Homo sapiens: one gene and its partners. The protein of the gene in region 5 purifies or fractionates together with the protein of the main gene of each other region. This does not show direct contact. Each region holds a gene or a part of one and is shown on either strand. Other genes may lie near its edges. The genes, in order: TIMP3, ZNF260, PFKP, MATN2, NELL1, HCN1 and FBLN1.

Region 1 (3,500 bases), on a different chromosome or scaffold from region 5:
CCCTTTCTCCTAAGTCCCTTCCTCAGCTCTTAACAAGAGTAGTTAAAGCTGGTTTAGAACTTCAGACATAAGTGGGTTGTTCTTTTTCAGCTGGGTTCTGCATGCCTCTGGGCCCCTCTTCTTCTTCTTGGTAGCATCTACACAAAGTTCCAAGATGTTAGCTTCCCTTGGAGTGAAGGGACAAATAAAGTAAAAAAGAAGTTTCTGAGTCTGGGGACATTTGCATATTTCTTATGAAATGTCTGGCCTTCACTCTACATTGACAGCATGAGTTGCCTCAATGATTCCAACTATGTCTTGCATGCCTACCAAAGATCAACACTGTTCTGGATGCTGGTGTACATCACGGACTCATTTAAACCCACAAATTCTTATTTACAGACCGACCGAGCTATCACGGCCATGATCTTTCTCTATACAGCAATTTGTCTAGCAGGACAGGCAGAGAATGTAGAAATGGAGCCAGTCTCTGCAGAGGGCTGGATGAGAGTCCTAAGGCAGGAAGAACCACGGGCATTGCAAGAAGAATGGTTCCCTGTGGGCTGGGGGTCAAAGATGCTTCCAGCTAGAGCTTCAAAGGCGAGACCCTGCTATTGCTCATTTGGTTAGACAAACCACTAAAGGAAGGAAGTCCCTGGAGGTCTGCTCTGCCTACAGTCAGGACATGCAAAGCACATGACCAGCGGGTCTCCCCATGGGACCCTCCCAGGACCAGCTGGGACATAATGTCCCCCACGTTCTGTCCCCTGCAGCCAGCTGGAGAGCATGTCTCCGCTACATAAACAATAACTCCTGGCACAGTGGATCGGTTTCTCATGGTCCTGATGGGAGATAAGGTCCCCACAGCTTAGAGCAGCCAGTTCTGGAAACTTTCACCTTCACCCCACAGCCCAGCTAATTTCCAAGTTTGGGATTGCAATAAGCTCTCTCAACATTCTAACACCCTGCTCCCTCACACACACACACATATCGCAGGTCTCTGTGTACTGAAGTGTTCCTGAGAGATGGGTCAGAGGCTCCAGAGTTAGCAGACGGGAGAAGGTCTGCCTGCCTTCCATCAGTGAGAGAAGAGAGAGGTCAGACAGGGCGGCTCGGAGTCTCAGGTTCTCCAAGTTCCTTTAGTCCTGCTCTAAGGAAGCCCTTGCTCACCCCTTCTGACTCTCTAGGGTAGACTGTCTAATCTGCTAGAACAAAGTCTCCCAGGGACCAGTGCCAAAACTCATGCAGGCTTGCCTCTCTGGCCTCTCTCTCTTCCCTCCTACAAAGATTTTTCTGATACACCCTTTGCAGGATATTACAAGTCCAGCCCTACACTGCTGGATGATAAACCAACAAACCCAAACTGACCTCTTTTTGTTCCCTGGGAACTAAAAACATATGGAGTGGGCATTTATATACCCCAAAGTGGGTAGGAATGATGAATCAGCCTGCTGCTCCATACTGTATTATCTCCTTATAGGCAAAGACCCTGTAGTTTTGCTCAGGTTTGCCACTTTGTGGCCATATAATCTTAACAGTTATATGACCTCCCAGGTCTCAGTTGCCTCACCTGTCAAACAGAGGACAAGGTGTTATCTATTTTACAGTGTTAGTATAAGTACTGATCTATGCAAAGACCTAGCAGAATGCCTGGCACTAAGCAATTGCTCAGTAAATGTTAACTGATGCCAAGTCTTATCATAATTATAAGCAGTGTTATCTTTGTATCCCCAGTTCATAGTACAGTACTAAGCACAGAGAGAGGGTGGGAAGGAAGCACGAGAGGATGGATGGACGGACTATTACTTCTAGCCTGTATCTTGTCTGACTTGCAGGCTGGTACCTAGAGACAAGCAGATTCCAGTGGTGTCTCTGGATAGAAGGGCACTGACCAGTTCTATGGATCATGATACCCTCTATGGAGGGTCAGAGTGAATGAAAGGCATGAGATGGTGACTGATGATTAAGATGGCAGGGAGATTTGGGAGTCATATAAAGAACACAGGATTGGGAAGAAATTCCGATGCCTCAGCTTGGGGATCAGATCTGCCCTTAGTTAAATGCTTGACTCTGAGTAAGTCATTTCCCCTTTGCGCCTCTGTCAGAAGTAAGACGAGGGATCCTACATCTAATTCCCAGCACCATGATTCATGAGCTCAGGCGAAGGATGGTGAACCGAAAGCCTAAGCCCACCAGTCTGGGAGTGGGAGTGTGTCTTCTAAGCCCACCAGCCTGGGAGTGGGAGTGTCTGATGCTGATAGGCTAGCAAGTGTTGTTTGGTCTCTAAACAACCACCCGTGGCTGGTCTGACACCAGCAAGGGGGAATGGGACATTATGTCCACAGGAAGGGCCTCTGGTCACCCTGGTCTCCAGGCCCTGATGGTAGGAAGGAAACCAGGCAGGCTTAGGAACTGCTGCCTCCCAGCTATTTCCCTCTCAGCTCTCTGCTGACCACCGAGTGTCTCGTAATGAGGATTGTTCCAGACCAGGCAGGTTCGTGTGTTTTCTGAACCTCTGCTTTGGTCTAATATGCTTTGGCATTCCCGCGCTGTCTGCCAGAGGTTGCAAAGTGGGCTTTTTGCGTTGTTGTTGCTCTTGCTGGTTCCCCACCCCTGCCCATTTTTCTCTCCCCAGGGCTGTCTGAAGACATAAGCTGGTCTCATGACCAAGCTTAGGCAGCCAAGGGCAACTGGCCAGGGCTGACTCTGGACATTACATAACCAGAAGGCTGTGGATGTTTGCAAAATTGAATCCAAAGCAACAGGTTCCACAAAATTAGTACATCCAGCCTCAGGACACAGGAATAAGAAAGCCTGGAGGTTGGCCTTGGGGATGGTTGGGTACCACCGTGGGCTGCGTCACTCCTCCACTCCCTTCTACCTGGACATTGCGGCTTGTCTCCTCTGGGGAGTTTCCAGGCCTGTGGGGTCTCACCCTCATGCCCGTATTAGACAGATAAGCATTCACCAAGTCACTTTTGCATGCCAGGTCCTACCCTAATTGCTAGGGATGCAAATATGAGCAATAAGTTAAAGGGCTGGACAGTTCCTGTGGACCTCAGCACACCCCACATTGAACTTCTGATGAGTCACACACATACCTGCCTCTTCTCTCCCAACCTGACTCTAGTTCCTAAAGATGGAAACTGTATCTCCCTCACGGCCTCCCTGGCTCCTAGCTGGGAGCTCTGCATGTAGAGAGGTGCTTACAAAGATGGGGTGATGAACCAGTTGCTGAGTTATTCAAGGTGAAGCCCCAGTCTTCTGTGCTAAGGCAATCACCAGTACACCCTTCCATTGTATACCACCCGCTCCTCCTTACAAGTAACATGGCCCGCATCCCAGGGTGCTTAGAATGCCTGAGCTAGAGAGGATGTTAGGAGCACCAAGCCCAACCCCACACTGTTAACAGGTGGCAAAACTGCGGCCCAGGAAAAGGGACAAGCCCAAGGTAAGCAGGCTATTTAGGAGTAGAGGTGAGACTAGGAGGCAGGTTCTCTAGATTTCAAATCTGGTGTTCT
Region 2 (3,500 bases), on a different chromosome or scaffold from region 5:
GGGTGCGGTGGCTCACGCCTGTAATCCCAGCACTTTGGGAGGTGGAGGCAGGCAGATCACAAGGTCGGGAGTTTGAGACCAGTCTGGCCAACATGGTGAAACCCCGTCTCTACTAAAAATACAAAAAATTAGCTATGCTTGGTGGTGGGCGCCTGTTATCCCAGCTACTTGGGAGGATGAGGCAGCAGAATCGCTTGAACCTGGGAGGCAGAGCTTGCAGTGAGCCGAGATCGCGCCACTGCACTCCAGCCCAGGTGACAGTGTGAGACTTCATCTCAAACAAATAAAAAAAATAAAATAAAATGAAAAATGCTTTCAAAATATAAGTCAAAATGCTCTAATGGCAAGCAAACTCTTAATTGTATTATGTGTAAATAGTGACCTGTTAAAACAAGGGTTGACGCCAGGCTCGGTGGCTCACGCCTGTAATCCCAGCACTTTGGGAGGCCGAGGTGAGTGGATCACCTGAGGTCAGGAGTTCGAGACGAGACTGGCCAACATAGTGAAACCCTGTCTCTACTAGAAATACAAAAAATTAGCTGGGCGTGGTGACATGTTCCTGTAATGCCAGCTACACAGGAGGTGGAGGCAGGAGAATCGCTTGAACCTGGGAGATGGAGGTTGTAGTGAGCCGAGATCACACCATTGCACTCTGGCCTAGGCAACAAGAGTGAAACTCCATCTCAAAAAATAAATAAATAAATAAAATAAAAAAAAACACCACAAGGTTGGCAAACTAAAAGAGTTTTTCTGGAACATGGCCATGTTTATTTATTTTCTTGTCCATGACTACTTTCACAGTATAATGCTTGAGATAAGTAGCTGCAATGGAGACCCTGTAGCCTACAAAGACTTAAATATTAACCATCTGGCCCTTTACAGAAAAAGCTTGCTGAACTCCTGTCCTAGAGTAGCAATTCCTCCATCTTCTATCTGGCTGAAACCAGGTTGCATTGTTGATCCAGCTCCAACCACAACCAGATAATAAAGAGAGAACCTCGGAGGAATCCATATGTTTCAGGGACCATAAGCACCAAAGTTAGCATGCAAATCTGGACTATTCACCACATGAGTGTTATGTGACCAAGAAATCAATTCCTACATTCCTTAAACTGGCACTTTGAAGTTTATTATAGTCACTTAGCTTTACTGTGATTAGTACACTTCTTATTGCTTTACATATCATGAATCTGAGATGCCTAACAAATACTAATCACCAGCCTGGACCTCTCTCCTCAACAATCAATTCAAATATCCAGCTGACTACTCAACATTTCCACTTGGATGTCTAATAGTGATCTAACTTACCCTGCCCCTATTCAAACTCTTGCTCCAGCTCCCAAACCAACTCCTCTCAAATTCTTCTCATCTCTTTAAATAGCAATCTCATTCTCCTTGCTGCTCAAACAATACTTCTCTTTCAGTCAGATTGCACACTCTTTACAACCTCGTAGCTTACTGGCTATTTTGGACAATCCTCACTGTGACCACCAAGGTCTAAGCCACATGTCTTGCCAGGATTATTTAACAGCCTCCTTACCAGTCTTGCTACTTTAGCTTTCAACTCTTTACAGTTCTCAACACAGCAGCCACAGTAATCTTGTCACAGTCCAATCACATCACTGCTCTACTTGAAAGCCTTTTTGTATCCTCATAAAAACATTTAGAAGCATACAGCAGACACTGTTAACAGTGGCTGCTTCTGGGAAACAGGGGATTGAGGGCCAGGAATGAAGAGACATACCTGATTGTTTTAATTTTCTATCAAGTATACATATTAAATTTTGATAATAATAGTATTATTTCTTTTTTTTTTTTTTTTTGAGATGGGAGTCTCACTCTGTCGCCCAGACTGGAGTGCAGTGGCATGATCTCGGCTCACTGCAACCTCCGCCTCCCAGGTTCAAGTGATTCTTCTGCCTCAGGCTCCTGAGTAGCTGGGATTACAGGCGTGTGCCACCTCGCCAGGCTAATTTTTGTATTTTTAGTAGAGACTGGGTTTCACCATGTTGGTCAGGCTGGTCTCAAACTCCTGACCTCATGATCCACCTGCCGCAGCCTCCCAAAGTGCTGGGATTACAGGCGTGCACCACCATACCCAGCCATTATTATTTCTTTTTAAAATTAACAGGGTAATGAACTAATAGGAAGTCAGCACTAATCCCTAAGCCTGTAATATTGTTAAAAAGCAGGAGGTGACATAGTGTTGAACTATGATGGCTGGAGGTAGGAAGACAATAGAAAACAAGAGTAAGGAAGCAAAATTCAATTCTGAGGAATATAACAATGGAAGGAGAAAGAATGATAGAAAGTTAAAATGTAAAGAAAAGAATCTACTTGCTAGTCTTTGAAAGTTTTTTTATTGATACATAATAGTTATACATAGAATGATTAATTTATTTTATTTATTATTATTATTTTTTAGACAGAGTCTCACTCTGTTGCCCAGGCTGGAGTGCACTGGCACAATCTCAGCTCACTGCAAGTTCCACCTCCCAGGTTCACGCCATTCTCCCACCTCAGCCTCCTGAGTAGCTGGAACTACAGGCGCCCGCCACCACACCTGGCTAATTTTGTTTTTGTATTTTTAGTAAAGACGGGGTTTCACCGTGTTAGCCAGGATGGTCGTGATCTCCTGACCTCGTGATCCGCCAGCCTCGGCCTCCCAAAGTGCTGGGATTACAGGCGTGAGCCACCACGCCTGGCCAGAATGATTACATTTTAAAGAAAATAACTTACATGCTAGTTTTTTTTTTTTTTTTTATTGATCATTCTTGGGTGTTTCTCGCAGAGGGGGATTTGGCAGGGTCATAGGACAATAGTGGAGGGAAGGTCAGTAGATAAACAAGTGAACAAAGGTCTCTGGTTTTCCTAGGCAGAGGACCCTGCGGCCTTCCGCAGTGTTTGTGTCCCTGGGTACTTAAGATTAGGGAGTGGTGATGACTCTTAACGACATGCTAGTTTTTGAAAACTAACAGATCTATGAAGGACTGAATGCTTAAGGAAACGCATCTAGGCATACAGGGAAAAGTGAAAAATGGAGAATGTTAGTGAAAGGAAGAAAAGTGAAATTGAGGCTGTAAAAAAATCATAAAATTGAGGCTGCAAATGATGTAGAATGACTGGCATCCAGAATAGATTTTAGAAGAGCAATCAGTCCTCTAGAATCTGATAAAAGGGATGCATAGATTCAGGAAGACAGTCTGGAAATGTCATTTAGGTATCTAAAGAATTCCCAGCAACAGTCACTCTAAAAGACAAAGGCTAGTACGAAAATCTCAAAAAAACAAACAAACAAACAAACAAAAAAACCCCACAACAACTCAGAGGCTGCAAATTCTCACTGAATAACTGCAATAAGTCTTTATCTCATTCATACCTACCAGGTTCTTGCTTACTCACACAAAGAGAACCTTCTTTACATTTCTTTCTCAATCATCTGTTGCTGTTCTTTTAAGTGCTGACTTTAAACTTGTGAGCAGAAAAATGACACTGGACTT
Region 3 (3,500 bases), on a different chromosome or scaffold from region 5:
GATCTCCTGACCTCGTGATCCGCCCGCCTCGGCCTCCCAAAGTGCTGGGATTACAGGCGTGAGCCACCGCGCCCGGCCCAACTTCAGTTTTAAAGGACCCCAGCGAGCTGGAGGGACACAGTGTGAGGGCTGAAAGGCGGATGCTAGTGTCCCAGGCTGCTGGGGACCCGGCTCGCCCCACGGCTGAGTGGCCGTTTGATTCCTCATCTGTAAATGGGATGATCTAAAACCTGGCTTAGATGGCTGTCGTGAGGATTCCATAAAGCTATCTGTGTGAAAGGTCGAAGGGTGCCTGGCACATGGTAAGGTTAAATTACTAGCATTCTTACGATCATTGCTGTTGTTTTTTGAGATCCTAAAAAGTCCTGAGATGGTGACCTGTAAGATCTGTGAGAAGAGGTACTTCTGCCACAGTGAAGAGGGAAACCTGTCGGTTCCAAAGCTCTGAAACAGGGCGAAAACCCGCAGGACAGAGGAGCAGGTGTCCACTCACCGTTCCTGGCCAGCTCCTCCAGCAGCCCACTCCACTCCTTCCGGAAGAGGTTGGCCCCGGTGAGGCTCCCGTCCCCGCCGATCACACACAGGTTGGTGATGCCGCGCTGCAGCAGGTTGCAAGCAGCCTTCAGGCGGCCTTCCCGCGTGCGGAAGGCCTGGCACCGCGCACTGCCAATGATCGTCCCGCCCTGGGAAAGACACCAGCTAATTTATCTCCTCTCAGTCTGAGAGAGCGCCAGGTGGATGGCACACACAGGCCGACTATAAACATGGGGTGCTAGAATTTACATTTTTCTCATTTTCATCTTGTGAGTTAGTAACTAGCTATGAAAGACTGTGATTTTCCTGTTTTTAGTCCCAGACCAGCATTCCATGGACAAAGACAGGCGCGTGACACCCAGGAGGAGCCAGGGAGGGTGCAGAGCCAGACACACGGCAGCCAGCAGTTAAATACATGGAGCAGGAACCAGCCTGCGGTGTCACAGCAGCCGCCTCAGCACCGGCCAACGAGCTCAACCAGGTGCACGTGGAACCAAAGACAAGCCCACTGACCACCAGAGCATGCCGGCCAGGACAAGGGAAGCGGTGTGACCAGCAGCCAGGCTTCTCCCTCCAGTCACCCCTTACAGCACCTGCAAGTAAAACCAGCAGGAACCTGGGGCCAGGGGGATTTTTTTTTTTTTTTTTTTTGCACCACATACTCGCTGCCCCTTTTAAAGAGCTATATCTTCAGGATCTTAAATTCTTTCATCCAAACTTCCAGGGGACATAGATCATGATTCGTCACACTTGGTTTTCCAAAAACTAAGAATTGTTGGTGGGATCCACAAATGCAAGATTTCTTTAAATAAAACCATGAATGCACCAAAAAACTCCATCCGTACGGGATCCCTAAGCGCGTGCTGACTTTGTCAAGCAAGGTGCTCATAAGCACAGCAGGGGTTGTCTCTGCACTGGAGGCGAAGCTCTCCCTGCCTTCGGTCTGCAGGCAGCTCCCAGGAGACCCCTGCAGTGACGTGAGTGCGTGTTTCGATACACCAATGGTGCACGCACACAGCTCATTTTCACACACAGAGACTCACTAATATTCCAAATCCCAGAAAAGCTCCTATTTTTACATGAAACCTACCACCATTTAATTTATCAAAACATTATGAAAAGGTTACAAAAACTGAAATTCACTCCACACGATCCTACGTCACTGGCACCAAGTGTGACCGAGACCATTTACAACCCAACCCCCAAGGCAAGTGAGGGTGGGGGCGCAGAGCAGGGCAGGGGTGCTCTCTGGACTCTGCCTGGACAAAAACCTGGGGGGCAGCACGAGAGCCAGCACAATGGGAGCTAGAGCCAGCAACCCAGAAACTCCAACCAAAGAGACGAGGTGGCCGCAACTCAGGAACGAAACCAGGATAACTGGGCTGCAGAGGAGTGGGTGCCATTCCCATTCTCTCACTCACTCTCTTTCACACACACACACACACACACACACACACCACACACCTACACATACAAGGACACCACATATACACACACCCCACACACAGATACACATTCGCTAGCCAGAAATTCACACAGTTAACACATACACACGGGCACACCACACATACACACTCAGACTCACACACCTACATACAGACACACACCAGACTCACACAGTTACACACACACCGAGATTCACACACCACATACACCACACACAGAAACACAGACTCACTGATACACATACGCACTTCAACTCTCCGTTCACATCTTATCTTCCTCCGTCAATCACGACCGCAGAATGGAAACGCTCCCCTGTGTGAATTCAGCCCACACTCTCCTGATGTTTTGCAAACGTTGCTCCACCTAACTTCCGTGGTTGTCAAAATTCCCTCCACCTCTCTTCTGATGTGTCGGAGCTCAGGAGGCGCCCAATGCAGAGAGAGCCTGGACCAGCACGAAGGTGTGGGCCCCATGAGCGTCTTCAGCGGGGAGGCACCGATTTGGATTATTTCTATTAACAAGTACTCAAAGTGACTCACAGATTAACACATGCATTTCTAAAAATCAAACCACAAGTAAAGAGCTGCTCACAAAGTCTGTTCTGTCCACATAATCTCTATTTCGCAACTGATCTGAGCTCAAGTGTTCTGGGAATTTACTAGACATAAAAGAGTCTCTAACTCAGAGAACCCTGTGGACGCAGCCCAGTACCTACCACTTGCAGGATGCTGGAGACACTCTCCCAGTCGGCCTCTGCGATGTTTGAGCCTCCGTCCACCATGCCCTGGTAGCCCTAGGGGAGAAAGGGAGAATCTTTTAAAAATGAGATAAACTTCACTAAATGGGAAGTGATCCTTAAATTATATAAAACGGGAAAAATGACAGTGAATGTCAGTTCCTCAGCATCCACTGGTCAGAAGACAGGGCAGTTCCAGCACTGGATAAAAGCAGTGAATTGTGGGAAAGTCCTCACCTTGAGTCCCTAGTAATGGGAACGTCTGCCTAGACTCAGCCTCACAGTGCAATGAGGAATCAAGCCATTCTCCTATGGCCCAGCGTTTCCCGAGAGGTTGAAAGGGTCGTGTTTCGCTAGAGGTTGAAAGGGGTCACTTTCACCCAACGTGTTTATCATACTTCAGCACAAACTCACAGGCACACAGCACTGTCGAGCACGGGACATACATGGGAGCATTTTGTCAGGGGCTCCGCCTGCCAAGGCACCCTGCGCCACTTGGGATGTATGTTGAATATTATTAAACAGCACAGCTGAATAATAATTGTCTGCCTTACCCTCCATTAATGACACGGTGCTGCATTAGGGAATCAGATATCAATATGTGAGGACACATTGATAGAAGAAGCCCAAGGACAATTACCTTTTTTTTTTTTTTTTTTGAGACGGAGTCTCACTCTGTCACCCAGGCTGGAGTGCAGTGGCGCGATCTCGGCTCACTGCAACCTGCCTCCCGGGTTGAAGTGATTCTCCTGCCTCAGCCTCCTGAGCAGCTGGGATTACAGGT
Region 4 (3,500 bases), on a different chromosome or scaffold from region 5:
TAGTGGTTCCTCTAGAAGAGTGACAAAGGAGCAGGACTTACTGCACAACTTCTTCTGGAACACGGAGGTCAGCGTCTCAATCTGGCTGAAATTGGCCACAAGGAAGACATGGTCCTCATGGGGCTCACTCCCAATGGACTTCAAGGTGTTGAAGTCTACCTGGCCCACACCAATGGCAAAGATTAGGATGCCCGTGTCCCGTGCCTTAGCAGCCACCTCGGCCACGGAGTCCTGAGGTCTCCCATCTGTCACGATCATTATGACCCGTGGCACATTCTCCCTCAGGGGCCGGGCCCCCTCTGCTTCTGAGAATGCGATGTTCAGGGCATACTGGATGGCCAGCCCAGTCATGGTGCCCGTGGACAGATGCCGCATCCTCTTGACAGCACGCTCCACCTCGGACTTCCTCTTGAAGGTCTTGAGGGAGAACTCATTCTTGACAGTGCTGCCATATTGGAGCAGGCCCACTCGGGTGACATCAGGACCAATGTCCAAGAATTGCAAGATGTCCACGATGAACTCCTTGACCTTTGCATAGTCATGGGTGTTGACACTGCGAGAGCTGTCAATGATGAAAACCAGGTCTGCCCGCTTGTTCTCACAGGAACTCTCTGGGGAAAGAGGAGAGGTCAAATACATTAGAAGAGAGGCCAGGTGTGGTGGCTCACACCTGTAATCCCAGCACTTTGGAAGGCGGGTGGATCACCTGAGGTCAGGAATTCAAGACCAGCCTGGTCAACACTGTAAAACCCTGTCTCTACTAAAAATACAAAAATTAGCCGGGTGTGGTGGCGGCACCTGTATTCCCAGCTACTCGAGAGGCTGAGGTAGGAGAATCACTTGAATCCAGCAAGCACAGGTTGCAGTGAGCCAAGAGAGTGCCATTGAACTCCAGCCTGGGCAACAAGAGTGAGACTGCATTAAAAAAATAAAAATAAGAATAAAAACATTAAAAGAGAGTTAAGGACCCAGGGCAGACTGGCTATTGTTGGAAATCCTGGGACTGATGATCACCTTTGAAACCTCCTTCATCAATTTTCCTCCCCACTCATGAAAGTTATAAGGGTATATTTGTGCATGGCTGGAAGATCATGACTACTGGCTATAATCAGATAGCAATCCTTTTTGCAAGATAAATGAATATATTAGTTTCTAGAAAGTTGCCAATGCAGTTTTTATGTAACCAAACACCTGATCAGGGTCAAAATTATTTTATTCTTTACTGCATGACACATAAGCTTGGCTGGGCACTGCAGAGAATATAACAGAAGCTTAGGACAGGGTCCAAAGTTAAGGAGCTTCTAATCTACCTGGGGAGAATTAACTAATAAAACCATGAAAGAATAACTGGCATGAAAACTGTGTCGTCCTGACAATAGCTGCTAAGAGAATAGGGATATGAATGGGCTGGGGTCAAGGAGATGGGACGTGAGCTGACCTTATAGATGCGTGGTGTTTGGATTAGAGAGAAGGAGCACATCGAGTGGATCACATGAACCAAAGCCCAAGACGGAATGAATGTGGTGGGTAACAGAATAAGTGATGAGACCTTGTAGTAGAGGGTATACTAGGAGTTGCAGGCAGGAATTAGTTGGACAGATGGCCTGAAGCCAGTTTAAAAAGACCTTTCCTTTCAGACTGAGAAATATGTACATGATGCCACCAGTGAGGGGCATCTTAGCATCATATTATGTAACTCACCTCTCCCATAGGGAAGTTACATAATGAAAAGTCAACAGAGTCTGGCAGTGGTTTGCAAGATGGATGGTATACACAATTTCTGGACTAATCTCATTGAGAGGGGGACTCAGATCTAATCCTAGGACAGTAGTGGAAATAGAGAAAAGGGGACCTGACTAAGAAATATTTCAACAAAGGACACAGTTAAATTGGAAAAAGGCAAATGTTAAGTCCCTTACCACCATGACTACCATAATTATGCCTTAAGCTGCTAAGCAAGAAGACTGTAAAGGTTTGAGTCCATAGACAAACTCATCCCTTTTGCGTTTCTAGTACGAGGGTGATATTGGATGAGATGAGAGGCCTCCAGCTTTAGTGGGTGGAGGCTGGGCATTCCTGTTGGGAGTTTCTCGGATATTCTGAGCTACTGCCTTTCACCAGGGTGAGTCCCTCCTCCCCCATTCTCTACTCCCTTCCCGGACTTTGCAGCTGAATCAGGATTTGAAAGGTATTAGAAAAGGGATCCCAAATGCTTGCCCTAAATCCTAATCACCACAGCTGCAAGAAAGAGAGAGAAAGCCAAAATGAAACAGTAAAGCTAGTCATAAAAATGAGAAGTGGGAAAGGCCCATGAAGTCATCCTGTCCAGGCCAGCTTGCCAGGCTGTGACTCGTCCCTGAGTGCCTGCACACACAACTCATCCTTGCCGCCTCACAAGTCTAATGATTTTAGGGGAGGAGGCACCCACAAATACCAGTAGCCTGGCAAGAAACCAACGTTCTGACATACCCATGCATAACCCTGAGGGCTGGGTGAGTCCAGGGTGAGTGTCTCAAAACAGAGGCCCCAGAAAGTGAGCCTTTGAGGGTTCAGCGATAAGATCTATATGAAACCTAACATTTCCAGAGCACTTTGTCACTTGGTGTGATTTGATTTTCAGAACAAGTTTTTGAGAAAGGATCAAGAAGCATCATACCCATTGCATAGATGAGAACATGGGAGCACTGAGAGTTTGAAATCTTTCATAATTTAGAAAAAGAAAAAAATATACAGAGGTGCAACCAATATCCACCTCGTTGGGCAGCTGTAAGAATTTAAGGAAATGATGTAATGAAGGATCCAGCACTTGGGAACTCCCGACGTGTGCTGGCTGCATGTACAGGCTCTCCCCACCCCTCCATCAGCCCTCACTCGTGTCCAGCCCCAGGCTGGGTAGGGGCAGGGTTACAGCTATGGCTATGTGGTTGGTGCTGCACACAGGCACCTGCTCAAGGAGGTGAGAGGAACTGAAATCCAGCCAAGCCCTGAGCCCCAGGGGCTGAGCCACCCTAAGAGGCACCTTAAGGGGGGTGCTTTTCAGCCAGGTGCAGTGGCTCACGCCTGTAATCCCAGCACTTTGGGAGGCCGAGGCGGGAGGATCACAAGGTCAGGAGATTGAGACCATCTTGGCTAACATGGTGAAGCGCCAAATCTACTAAAAATACAAAAAATTAGTCAGGCATGGTGGCACGCACCTGTAGTCCCAGCTACTTGGGAGGCTGAGGCGGGAGAATCACTTGAACCCAGGAGGCGGAGGTTGCAGTGAGCTGAGATGGCGCCACTGCACTCCAGCCCAGGTGACAGTGCAAGACTCCACCTCAGAAAAAAAAAAAAAAAAAAAAAAAAGGCAGGAGTGCTTTTCTAATTTTCATGAAGGCTCCTGTGGTTTAGCATATAGCCCTGGGTTGGGGCAGTAGATGATGGATCTGCAGATCCCAGGAAGGAGGACAAGGGGGAGCATTCCCAAGACCCAGGCAGGCCCTCTCCAAGAGCCACACCTG
Region 5 (3,500 bases):
ATGAGTAGGCATTTAAGAAGGTTCAGCACTATGAAATGTATGTATAATGCGACTGGACTCTACATACATATTTTCATCAAAACATTTTACAGGGATCTCAGCACTAAGTATGCAGTAGATGGGACAAAAGTCACAACAGGCAACTTTATTTTAGAATTTGATCCATAAATCAACAAAATAAATAAAAGGAGCTGAGTCTCTCTCTATTATGTTAGTACACAAAATAAACCAAAAAATACATCAACATTTACCATGAGATCATTTAAATGTATTTGCAAATGATCTGATAAGGGAAACATGATTTACAACACGGGAAACTTCTTTTAACAACCATTGACTTAAATGCACGGCACTGTAGGTCACCTAGACTAGGTTAGCAAGAATGAGCAAAGTGGTAGGTCCAAAAGGCAACCTCCAAACACCGTCCTCAGGTGGAAACTTTGGCAATTATCTGTGGTTAAAAAAACAAAACAAACAAAAAAACCAAACTACCGATTCCTATCCTTAATCACGTTGGATGGTCATTTCGTCCATTCTTCTGCGTTGAGTCCACTGTAAATACTTCAATTATTTTGAAGACACTCAAAATCCACAGAACAACAGACTCTTCCATTCTGTACATCAAAGAAACATGTGTTAGCCAGTTGAGACATGGAATATAAATTAGCAGTCTGCAATTTTTATACTCAAAACAACTTTCAGCATTTTGAGACAAACTTCAAGAAGGCTATAAAAAATGACTAGAAAAAAATGCTAGGAAAAAAACTAGAGAAAGAGTAGAAAGAAAGGAAGGACTGACAGACCCTCCAGGGTACTGCTCACTGGGATTCTGCTAGCAGTTCAATTTCACACATCACCTGCACTCAATCCCTGCTTGGGAGGCCTCCCTGGGATTTCCAACTTTTCACATGACCTGTTTGCTGTACTTATTCCAAGCGAGATTCTTTCCAAAAATAAATCCCTAAAAGATAGCAATTTGTCATTTAAGAAGCTATTTGAAAGTACCCCCAACAATCTTCAGGCAAGTCCAAGATGGGGTCCAGTAAGGTTTGCATAAAATCTCTCATGGTGACTATGAAGGGGATAGTGCATAGTTAGGTATATAAATACTTATAAATTCATTAAAAATTTTATGTACTAATGTAAATATACCTTTATAATTCCACATAATTATCAAATAAGTAACAGAGGTCTCCCTGTGTCCTGGTCATTTAGTTCTCTGGGACTGAAGGTACAGATGGGACCATGGACCTTTTTCTATATGAGGTCTGATAGTATCCTTTTTCTACTGGGGCTACATCTTAAGATGATACTTTCCCAGAAAAAAAAAATCTACATTTATAACAGCATAAAGAGGCAAGTTGGGAAGCTTCCACTGATGCTTGAAGCTGAGCCAGGGTTTGATGGGACCAAGTAGGCTCCTAGTTTTAACATGTTTAATCATGGGAATCTTAAACAGATATTTTGGCAGATATTTGACACTAACTAATGATTGTTCCAAATCAGCTACCACTCCAGCTCTTCATGAGCTTTGAAGGGAGAGAATGGTCAGTTTTTTAGTCTTAATGACACATGAGGATGTCTCATGAAAACCCCTCCAAAAAGACAGGGAAATAATCACTGTTAATGAAATGCTGTAGCAAGAGCTGCAGGTCCCCACCTTAGGCACTCTGATAATTAAACAAAGCAAAACAACTTGAGAGGACTTTTTTCCCCTAACATTGACAGTTTAATAAAAGAACTTAGAAACTTTTCCAGGATGAAAGGAAGTTGACTGGTTTCCTTCCTTCCTCCCTCTTTCCCTCCCTCCCTTCCTTCCTTCTTTTCTTTCTACTTCCCTTCCTTGTTCTTTCCCTTTCTTTCTTTTCTTTTTATTTAATATGCATGTCAAAAGAGCCTAAGTTAGTCATAATTAAGCCAAGAATCACTTGTCAAAATTATGTAGTTCAAAGGCAGGAGCAATTCTTTTATTTCATGCTCATTTGGAATTTGCCTTTTTACAGGGTGCAGCTATGATAATATTCATACATATTAAATTCCTATGAGAAGTAAATGTATGCCAGAGTTTCCACCATGTCCATTGAACCTGTGTATTCAGAAACATCAGGAGTGGACCTCCTGCAAGTGTTCTCTGGCAATTGTTCAAGGCTTCAATATCCGCAGAACATCCAATTACCTTGCATTTACAGGTTGTGCAGGGAGATCCAGCCATCGTCCACACTGAGCCACTAAGCCGTGAAACACCATAGCTGTCCAGGCAAGTTTTTCTGATGTCATAGGTGATGTTATCAGCTAGGCAGGGGTCACTGACACAGCGGGGACAACATTCCCCTTCTAAGATAGCTGTATACTCACAGCTCAAGTTGGGGCAAGTGAGTGGCCAGCAATCTACCTCTCCTTCCTGTAGAGGAAAAGCAAAAAATGTCTCATTATTGTTCCTATGCATAATTTTATTCCCAAAGTCATAGAAGGGGAAAGAGAGCACAGTAATTCTCATCACTGAATATTTCTAGTTGACACCATTGAGGATAAAGTACACTTCCTCCTTGAAGACCTACTACAGGTCTCACTTCTTTCAGAATGCTTTTGCTGATCATCTATACTGCAGGACATAGAAAGAGCTAGGTGAGCTTCTTTGTGTGCCAAGCACAGCCTATAATTATTTTAACATGATACTTATATCATAATTAGCACAATTCCACATTAAGTTTTGAGCTTTCAGACTTTCTGCTTGTTACTTTCTCTCCATCATGTTTAGCACAGTTTTGGTCAATAAAGGCTAATAAATAAATTATAAGGTACTGTCTAGTATATAAAGAGCAATTAATTTCTCTTAAGTTCAAAAGCAGAACCTGAAGCACTGTAATATTTCAATCAAATTTAAAGTTAAGATTGGGCAATGTCAAGATAACCATTTCAGAATGGTTTTGAATATAACATGTGACCACTGAACTTTCTAGATTGCAGTTCAAATGGAGCTTTTGTGTGTCTCAGCATCTGGCATCTGTGGCTTCATTGAGCTGCCCACAATAAAACTATTTCACTATGCATCCTCTTCCTCTGCTATCATGAATTATAATCTATGGCATAATACCTTACAATATATGGCAACTTATTTAATTGTTCAGTCATCTCCATAAGACTGTGGGCTTTGTGTAGGTATAGGCCATGTTTATCTTGCTCACTGTTACGTCATACAAAGTTTGGCACATGAAAAGTCTTGAATATTTATTAAGTATGACCCACAGTATTCTCAAGTAATTCATAAGTTATGTGTTTAACAGCTTCAATTTTCCTGAGAAATATTCATCTTAGGGGCTAGGATGGAAGAGGATACACTTTTGAAATTCTATCTATGAAAATTTCATGCATCAAATTAATACTAATTCTTCTGGATGCCTGATGATTAGCTTCTTGGAAAAGAAATGCAATTTGCCAGTCTCATAGGGAAACTAATTCTACAGTTGTATTGACTTTTTTTGTCCTTGGGTGGGAGTTTT
Region 6 (3,500 bases), on a different chromosome or scaffold from region 5:
TGAAGATAGGGATATGAACTCCTTTGCTTGATGATGGTTTAACTCAGATCTTTGGAAACTCCAGTTGGCTGAGCCCTCTCAGGTCCCACCCACTGCCTAACAACAGATGCTCTATTCAGCAAAATATGGGCCTGATTGGTCAGATTCACTCCATTTATTCACTATACTCTTTGTGTTTTCTATGTACTAATGTCCCTCATGAATATGTTCCTTTTTAGTATTATGAAATGAACTAATAGGGAGAAACTAAAATAAGTTACTATAGGCAAGGCATAACAATAAGCAAAATTAATATGCTAAAATCAAAGCCTTTATATATACAATTTGGAAATAAAGAAACAATCTGTTTTACCCAATCATGAATTCAATGAAACTTCAATATTAGAGGATACAAAAACCACACTATCTCACAGAGCTAATGATGTGCCAGATTAGCAATCAGACCCTACACATCTTTATCAAAATAATGGTACTTGATGTATTTATATTAGATTAAAAAAAACCAAGGTGGGAAAGGGGTTGTATTGATCAAGATAATAATTGCTGATTAAAGTGCATTTATTTAAAAATAAAATAAATTGGCATAAAACGATCACTATTTTTTTCAGTTCATTCAAATCCATTATTTGATCATATATTTTAGGGATACAAATATATCACTTATGCATGGAAAAGAGTCGTCGAATACATTTTTCTACTTGAATTTCATAAAACTCATTACACATTGCACAGTTGTTCATTGTAAAACAGCCATAATTAACAATTTCATGATATAGATTTAAAAAAGAAAAAGATGCATCTTACCTCTTCCCATTGATGTATGTATCTAATTAACCTTGAAAGTCGTAATAAACGCAAGAGACTGAGAATTTTTGTAAACCTCACAATGCGAAGTGCCCTGGCTGTCTTGTAAACTTCAGAATCCATTCCTTTTTCTACAATAAGAAAGATATAATCCACTGGGATGGATGAGATGAAGTCAACCACAAACCAGCTTTTTAAATAATTCATCTTGATCACTTTGGGGTCCAGGATGATTTCAGAACTGTCTTCATTGACAGTCCCAGTCCTAAAATTCATGATCAGGTCCAATAGGAAAACTGTATCTGATGCCACATTGAAAATAATCCATGGTGTTGTTGTTTGCTCTGTAAAGAATGTGATTCCAACTGGTATGATGACTAGATTTCCAACCATCATTATAAGCATTATTAAATCCCAGTAAAACCTACAACAAATAAAAAAATCAGATTTTAAGATATAGAAAATAACCAGCCTATCCCCCCCATGAAAAATTATTACTGATATATAGTGAGATCAATAAGTAAAAGAACAAAGAAATGATTTTATTTTTTAAAAATGTAATTCCTTAAATGGCTATATGTTTAAATCTAAGTAAAATTAATATATTCTTAAACCAAGGCATTATGATTATGGAATTCTAAAAATTATGTGATATGAAGCATTATACAAATAAAATCAAAAACATTCATACCCCCATTTATTTAGTAAAGAGGCAAAAAAAGCAACCTACCTTATACTTAATACAAAATATAGACAGAAACTAGAAAGAAGTATAAGATTAGAAGATCTGTAAGAAAGCCTTTGGGAAGGCTCTTTGAAGATGTTTTGAATTATTTTAGATGTCAATTTACCAATCATAGATTAGAAAAAAAAACCCAGAAATAAATAGGATACTCTAACAATTTTAGTTATGCAAATTTATCTCAAGGAATACAGATTAGTTTTGCCATGGAATCTAGAATACACTGGAGTTTTGCAGTACTCCAAATATTTTATGCTTTATTTTTCTTTTGCTTGAAATAAGAAAACTAATTTTGGTCTGATGCTAAAAAGAACTGAGCAAGTTCTACTCCATATTTGAAACTAGAATCTACCTAAAATTTGTGTTTTTATTACTACTCTATTGAACAACTACTTCAAATATATTGCCACTACTTTTCCATAAAAATTCTTTCTTTCTTTCTTTTTTTTTTTTTTTTTTTTGAGACGGAGTTTCATTCTTGTTGCCCAGGTTGGAGTACAATGGCACAATCTCAGCTCACTGAAACCTCCGCCTCCCAAGTTCAAGTGATTCTCCTCCCGCCTCAGCCTCCCGAGTAGCTGGCATTACAGGCGTGCCACCATGCCCAGCTAAAAAAAAATCTTTAACATTTCTAATTTAATTCTGAACATGCCTATGACTACTAAGTACCTTTTGAAATATTCTTATCTCAACTTACATTAAAATTGAGAGAAAACCAGGAACTTCATTGCTGGTTTATATAGCTTAACTAAATTAACTAAATTCACTTGACATAACTATAGTGTTATTTTTATAAGGGTTCTTTCAGTCTGTTGACACTCCTATTAATCAAATATTTATAGTTGTTACAGTATATACTTGCAAAAATGAAAAAATAAACACAACTGTATAATCATGAAATGTATCCAGAAACATGAGTTACTTTATCCTAGTCATAGGTATGTTATTTGAGGAGTTTTGTATAAACAATATAAACTTCCATGATAAAAATGTCTGTTTACCAAGATATTTTTGTTTTACATGAATACTCCTACTTAGACTATTTGAGCTACATTTTGGTGAGGTATACATGTGTATAAAGCTTTCAAAGTTACTATCATCTGTAATTAAGAATGACTCCTGAAATAAAAGTACTAGTTGAAGAAAAAACTATAATAGGCCCTATCTCCCCTGTCTCCAGCCTCAGGATGTTGTAAAGGATAAGCGTTTGTTATTTTGAAGATTTCACCAGTATTTCTGTCAAAACTTGCCTGCAATTTTTGAAACAACTGTACAAATACCCATGTCAGCCATACAACATGTACTGGCAGTTTAAATGAAATGGTTTTATATCTTCTCACAATGGAAATGCAAAATATACCATTCAACACAATAAGGACAGAGGAGAGATGTAGAGGAGGAGCAATATTGTAACAGCTATTTCACAAAGAAATGGCACCACTAAACTCTAAAATGAAACTGTGTGTACCCTGAGGATTTTTCACTTCTGGGCACTCCTATCAAGTCCCTTCTGTAAGCTTCTCTCTCTGCCCTCCCCTTCAAGGCTGTTGTTCCCCTGGGTGTCACACATAGCCCTTTCATCTTCTATTCTACGCATTGCCCTTGAGAAATATTATACACTTATCCATGCCTTTAATAATTAATTTGTAACTGATGACCCCAAAAGCTTTATCTTCAGTCCATTCCTATCTTCTAAGCCTCCTAATCCTCATAATCAGTAGCCCGTTAAATCTCTCTCCTGGCATATCTCACACTCATCTCAAACAGCATGCCTAAGCTCAAACTCATAATCTCCTCTCCCACATATATTCCTCACATATCCCCTATCTCAGGGAATGGAATAACTCTATGTGTGATTTGCAAGCCAGAAACCATGGAGCCATCCTAAATAACTCCTGGCCCTAAATCTGCTCAAACCCATATCCAATTGATCACCAAGGCTGTTTAGTTCTCA
Region 7 (3,500 bases), on a different chromosome or scaffold from region 5:
TGAGCCCCCTCCTTACCTCTCAGCCATGCACCACCACCAAGACCTGAGATATGCGGCCCAAGGTCCCAGTGCATGTTGTAATTACCGCCGTGCACATTTATTAAAGAACAAGTCAGGAGTGGTTTGCTGCCTTCCCACCCTCACGCTTAAGGATGGGAAAAGTATATTAGAATTTCAGTTGGGGGCCAGGCACGGTGGCTCATGCCTGTAATCCCAGCAATTTGGGAGGCTGAAGCAAGAGGATCACTTGAGCCACGGAGTTCGAGACCAGCCTGGGCAACACAGCAAGGCCCCGTCTCTAATTTTTTAAAAATAAAAAATTAGCCAGGCATGGTGGTATACACCTATGGTCCCAACTACTTGGGAGGCTGAGGTGGGAGGATCACTTGAGCCTGGGAAGCTGAGGCTGCAGTGAGCAGTGATTGCACCATATCACTCCAGCCTGGGCAACAGAGCAAGACCGTGTCTCAAAAAAAAAAAAAAAAAAAAAAAAAAACCTCAGTTGGAGGGAAAACAGCAAACCACCCGCTTGCCTCCAAGGGTGGACATGGAAGGTTTGTCAGGTGAAGAAATCCCAGCAGGCTCTTCCCTGTGGATTTTGAAAGTCAGAGGCCGTGCTGCTGTGTCATGGCAAGACCAGGGGGTGCTTTCCCCCTCAGCAGGCAGGGGCGTCCGCACCTTCACAGGTGACTCCATCCACATCGCTGAGCTGGTAGCCTCGCCGGCAGTAACACTGGTAGGAGCCGTAGACGTTGGCACACTCCTGGCTACAGGGGCTGCTGCTGCACTCATTGATGTCTGAAATACAAAACGAGGGTCACCGCTCAGAGCATCATACGTCCCTGCCTCCACAGTAGCCCTCAGGGTCAGTGAACAGAAAATCTCCTCTCCACCTCCCTCAGGTTAACACACTCGGAGAGACAGAGGTCCCGGGGGGTGTGGCCGAGGGAGAGGCGTCATCGCTGGTGGCTCCGGACCCTCCATCCCTGCTCCTGCCTGCTTCGACCACAACTTCTCCTGCCAGGATGGCAGCGATCGCCTCCAGCCTTGGCCCCTGGAAGTCTGCCCCGACCTGGCTGCCAGAGTCCATTCTAGTTCTCAAATGGAAATCTGATCCTGTGCTCTCCACTTCACCTCCAAGATGGCATCCTAAACAGATGACGGCACACAAGGAAGTCCTCGGCCACCCAGCCCATACGCCAGTACTCCTCATACTCCAATGCACAGAACTCACTGGGCCACTCAGCAACTCTGAACTACTGCTCAACTGTCCCCTTTACCTAAAGCAGAGGTCAGCAAATCATAGTCTATGGGCCAAATTTGTCCCAACACTTGTTTTTATAAATAAAGTTTTATTAGAACACAGCCCGGCAAGGCATGGTGGCTCATGCCTGTAATTCCAGCACTTCGGGAGGCCGAGGTGGGCGGATCACGAGGTCAGGGGTTCGAGACCAGCCTGGCCAGCATGATGAAACCCATCTCTACTAAAAATACAAGAATTAGCCAGGCATGGTGGCACGCACCTGTAGTCACAACTTCTCGGGAGGCTGAAGCAGGAGAATTGCTTGAACAAGGAGGCAGAGGTTGCAGTGAGCCAAGATCACACCACTGCACTCCAGCCTGGGCGACAGAGCGAGACTCCGTCTCAAAATAATAATAACAATAAAATAAAGAATACAGCCACATTCACTCTTTTTTTTTTTGAGACAAAGTCTTTGTCTGTCGCCCAGGCTGGAGTACAAGTAGCTCAATCTCAGCTCACTGCAATCTCCACCTCCGGGAGGCTATTGTCCACTAAATGTGGACATGAATTCAAGCAGTTCTCCTGCCTCAGCCTCCTGAGTAGCTGGGGGATTACAGGTGTGCACCACCATGCCCGGCTAATTTTTGTATTTTTAGTAGACACAGGGTTTCACGATGTTGGCCATACTGGTCTCGAACTCCTGACCTCAAGTAATCCACCTGCCTCAGCCTCCCAAAGTGCTGGGATTACAGGTGTGAGCCACTGTGCCCTGCCACACTCATTCTTTTACCATGGTCCTCTGGCCACTTCTCTGCTACCACAGCAGAGTTCAGCGGTTGCAACAGAGATTGTGGCTGGAAAAGCCTTAAATCTATACTATGTGGCTGTCACAGAACGTCCAATAGCCTTCCACCCCGTGTTTCATCTCTGTGGCCCCCACACACCAGGCCTGGCCTCCACCTGTCCAGTGTGGTCTCTCATCCCCCGCTAGAGACACTCCCCAGTGCAGGACCGAGTTCTTGCTACACACCCGGGGCAGGACCCTAACAAATGGTTAGTAAGGTCACATAGCAAGGTTGGCCAGGCTCTGGTTCTATATCCACAATATTGTCCACTAATGTGGATATGAATGCCGACTTTTCAGCAATTTATGAATGACTAGAGGAAGCACAAGCCAGGAATCCCACTACTTCTACTAAATAATAATAAAGCCAGCAGCCTCCACACCGCCAGCTCTTCATCCTGTGCTTGGCCCTGTGATAAGCTCTTCACATGCTTAATCTCGTTTCATCCTCACAACCCCCTATGGGGTTGGTCCTACTATGCCCGTTTTACAGATGAGGACACCATGGCCCAGGAAAGACTGAGTTACTTCTTCAAGGCCATGGAAATGGCAGAAGTCAGGTTTGAACACAAGCCTGAGAGACTCAACTCGTGAATCTTGTTCCTTGTCCATACACGTTCTTGTGAACTAAGCCCAGGACCCCTCACACCGTCCGTCCTCCGATTTGAGAATCATGCACACCACAGCTCACTGTGGCATATCCAACCCCTGCGACCATCTCATCAGGAAGGAAAATTCTCATGGCAAAATGTTAGGACCTGCCATGTTTGAGTCAGGCTGCAGAAGCCGTCCTGTGAGCCAGTGCACGGCACCAAACAGGGTGTCATCGGCAATGTGGACGATTGTGGAGGGCCATCCAAAGCTCTCAGTGTCTGCTCAGCTCAGAACCTAATCCGTATACAAGACACGACATCTGCCAAGCACCTAGTATGTGCCAGGCCCTGGGCTGACATGCAGTTCATGTGACCTTCCCATCAGCCCAGGAGGTTGGTGTTATCTGAGAACCACAAGACTGTTGGCAGGAACAACTCTGTCCAACCCCCACATACCAAGAGACCTGACCCAACTTCAGCGTGGCTGCCATTGGCCCAAGACCAGGTATCCAGGATGTAGACCCAGCCCCCTTGACATGCCTGTCTGAGAAAGATCAATGCTGCCAAAAGAATTTTCTCTTGGTTCCAGCCCAAACCTGACTACAGGCGCTGACCTCCATGTTCCTTAGAAGCATCTACTTTAGAAAAACTTGCAAATGTAAACGGTTTCTCTGTCCCTTTGAGATGTGCAACCAAGGAGTGTCTTTCTCAAGGGCTGGGGACATGCCTGGGGAATGTCGTCATCCGGAAGGCCAGGGTGCTTCTCCCTGTCTCTGCGGGTGGGGAAAGCCTAACTCCAACACGAAGTTAGAGGCAGGCC

The links.
Region 1: the proteins of NELL1 (region 5) and TIMP3 purify together in Homo sapiens (affinity purification with mass spectrometry; 2 studies listed by BioGRID and IntAct, with this or other methods). This does not show direct contact.
Region 2: the proteins of NELL1 (region 5) and ZNF260 purify together in Homo sapiens (affinity purification with mass spectrometry; 2 studies listed by BioGRID and IntAct, with this or other methods). This does not show direct contact.
Region 3: the proteins of NELL1 (region 5) and PFKP purify together in Homo sapiens (affinity purification with mass spectrometry; 2 studies listed by BioGRID and IntAct, with this or other methods). This does not show direct contact.
Region 4: the proteins of NELL1 (region 5) and MATN2 purify together in Homo sapiens (affinity purification with mass spectrometry; 2 studies listed by BioGRID and IntAct, with this or other methods). This does not show direct contact.
Region 6: the proteins of NELL1 (region 5) and HCN1 purify together in Homo sapiens (co-immunoprecipitation; one large-scale study listed by IntAct). This does not show direct contact.
Region 7: the proteins of NELL1 (region 5) and FBLN1 purify together in Homo sapiens (affinity purification with mass spectrometry; 2 studies listed by BioGRID and IntAct, with this or other methods). This does not show direct contact.

The regions. Positions count from the first base shown.
Region 1 is NC_000022.11:32,850,205-32,853,704, reverse strand, and holds part of TIMP3 (metalloproteinase inhibitor 3 precursor), read right to left. Parts: intron 1-3,500.
Region 2 is NC_000019.10:36,521,772-36,525,271, forward strand, and holds part of ZNF260 (zinc finger protein 260), read right to left. Parts: 5' UTR 3,384-3,500; intron 1-3,383. UniProt on the Homo sapiens protein: Transcription factor that acts as a cardiac regulator and an effector of alpha1-adrenergic signaling. Binds to PE response elements (PERE) present in the promoter of genes such as ANF/NPPA and acts as a direct transcriptional activator of NPPA.
Region 3 is NC_000010.11:3,098,548-3,102,047, reverse strand, and holds part of PFKP (ATP-dependent 6-phosphofructokinase, platelet type), read right to left. Parts: intron 2,774-3,500; coding exon 2,696-2,773; intron 1,128-2,695; coding exon of another isoform or gene 1,048-1,127; intron 684-1,047; coding exon 494-683; intron 1-493. UniProt on the Homo sapiens protein: Catalyzes the phosphorylation of D-fructose 6-phosphate to fructose 1,6-bisphosphate by ATP, the first committing step of glycolysis.
Region 4 is NC_000008.11:97,928,064-97,931,563, reverse strand, and holds part of MATN2 (matrilin-2 isoform a precursor), read right to left. Parts: intron 612-3,500; coding exon 42-611; intron 1-41.
Region 5 is NC_000011.10:21,572,086-21,575,585, reverse strand, and holds part of NELL1 (protein kinase C-binding protein NELL1 isoform 1 precursor), read right to left. Parts: intron 2,402-3,500; coding exon 2,177-2,401; intron 615-2,176; coding exon 564-614; 3' UTR 1-563. UniProt on the Homo sapiens protein: Plays a role in the control of cell growth and differentiation. Promotes osteoblast cell differentiation and terminal mineralization.
Region 6 is NC_000005.10:45,644,381-45,647,880, forward strand, and holds part of HCN1 (potassium/sodium hyperpolarization-activated cyclic nucleotide-gated channel 1), read right to left. Parts: intron 1,229-3,500; coding exon 805-1,228; intron 1-804. UniProt on the Homo sapiens protein: Hyperpolarization-activated ion channel that are permeable to sodium and potassium ions. Displays lower selectivity for K(+) over Na(+) ions.
Region 7 is NC_000022.11:45,544,383-45,547,882, reverse strand, and holds part of FBLN1 (fibulin-1 isoform D precursor), read right to left. Parts: intron 799-3,500; coding exon 679-798; intron 1-678. UniProt on the Homo sapiens protein: Incorporated into fibronectin-containing matrix fibers. May play a role in cell adhesion and migration along protein fibers within the extracellular matrix (ECM).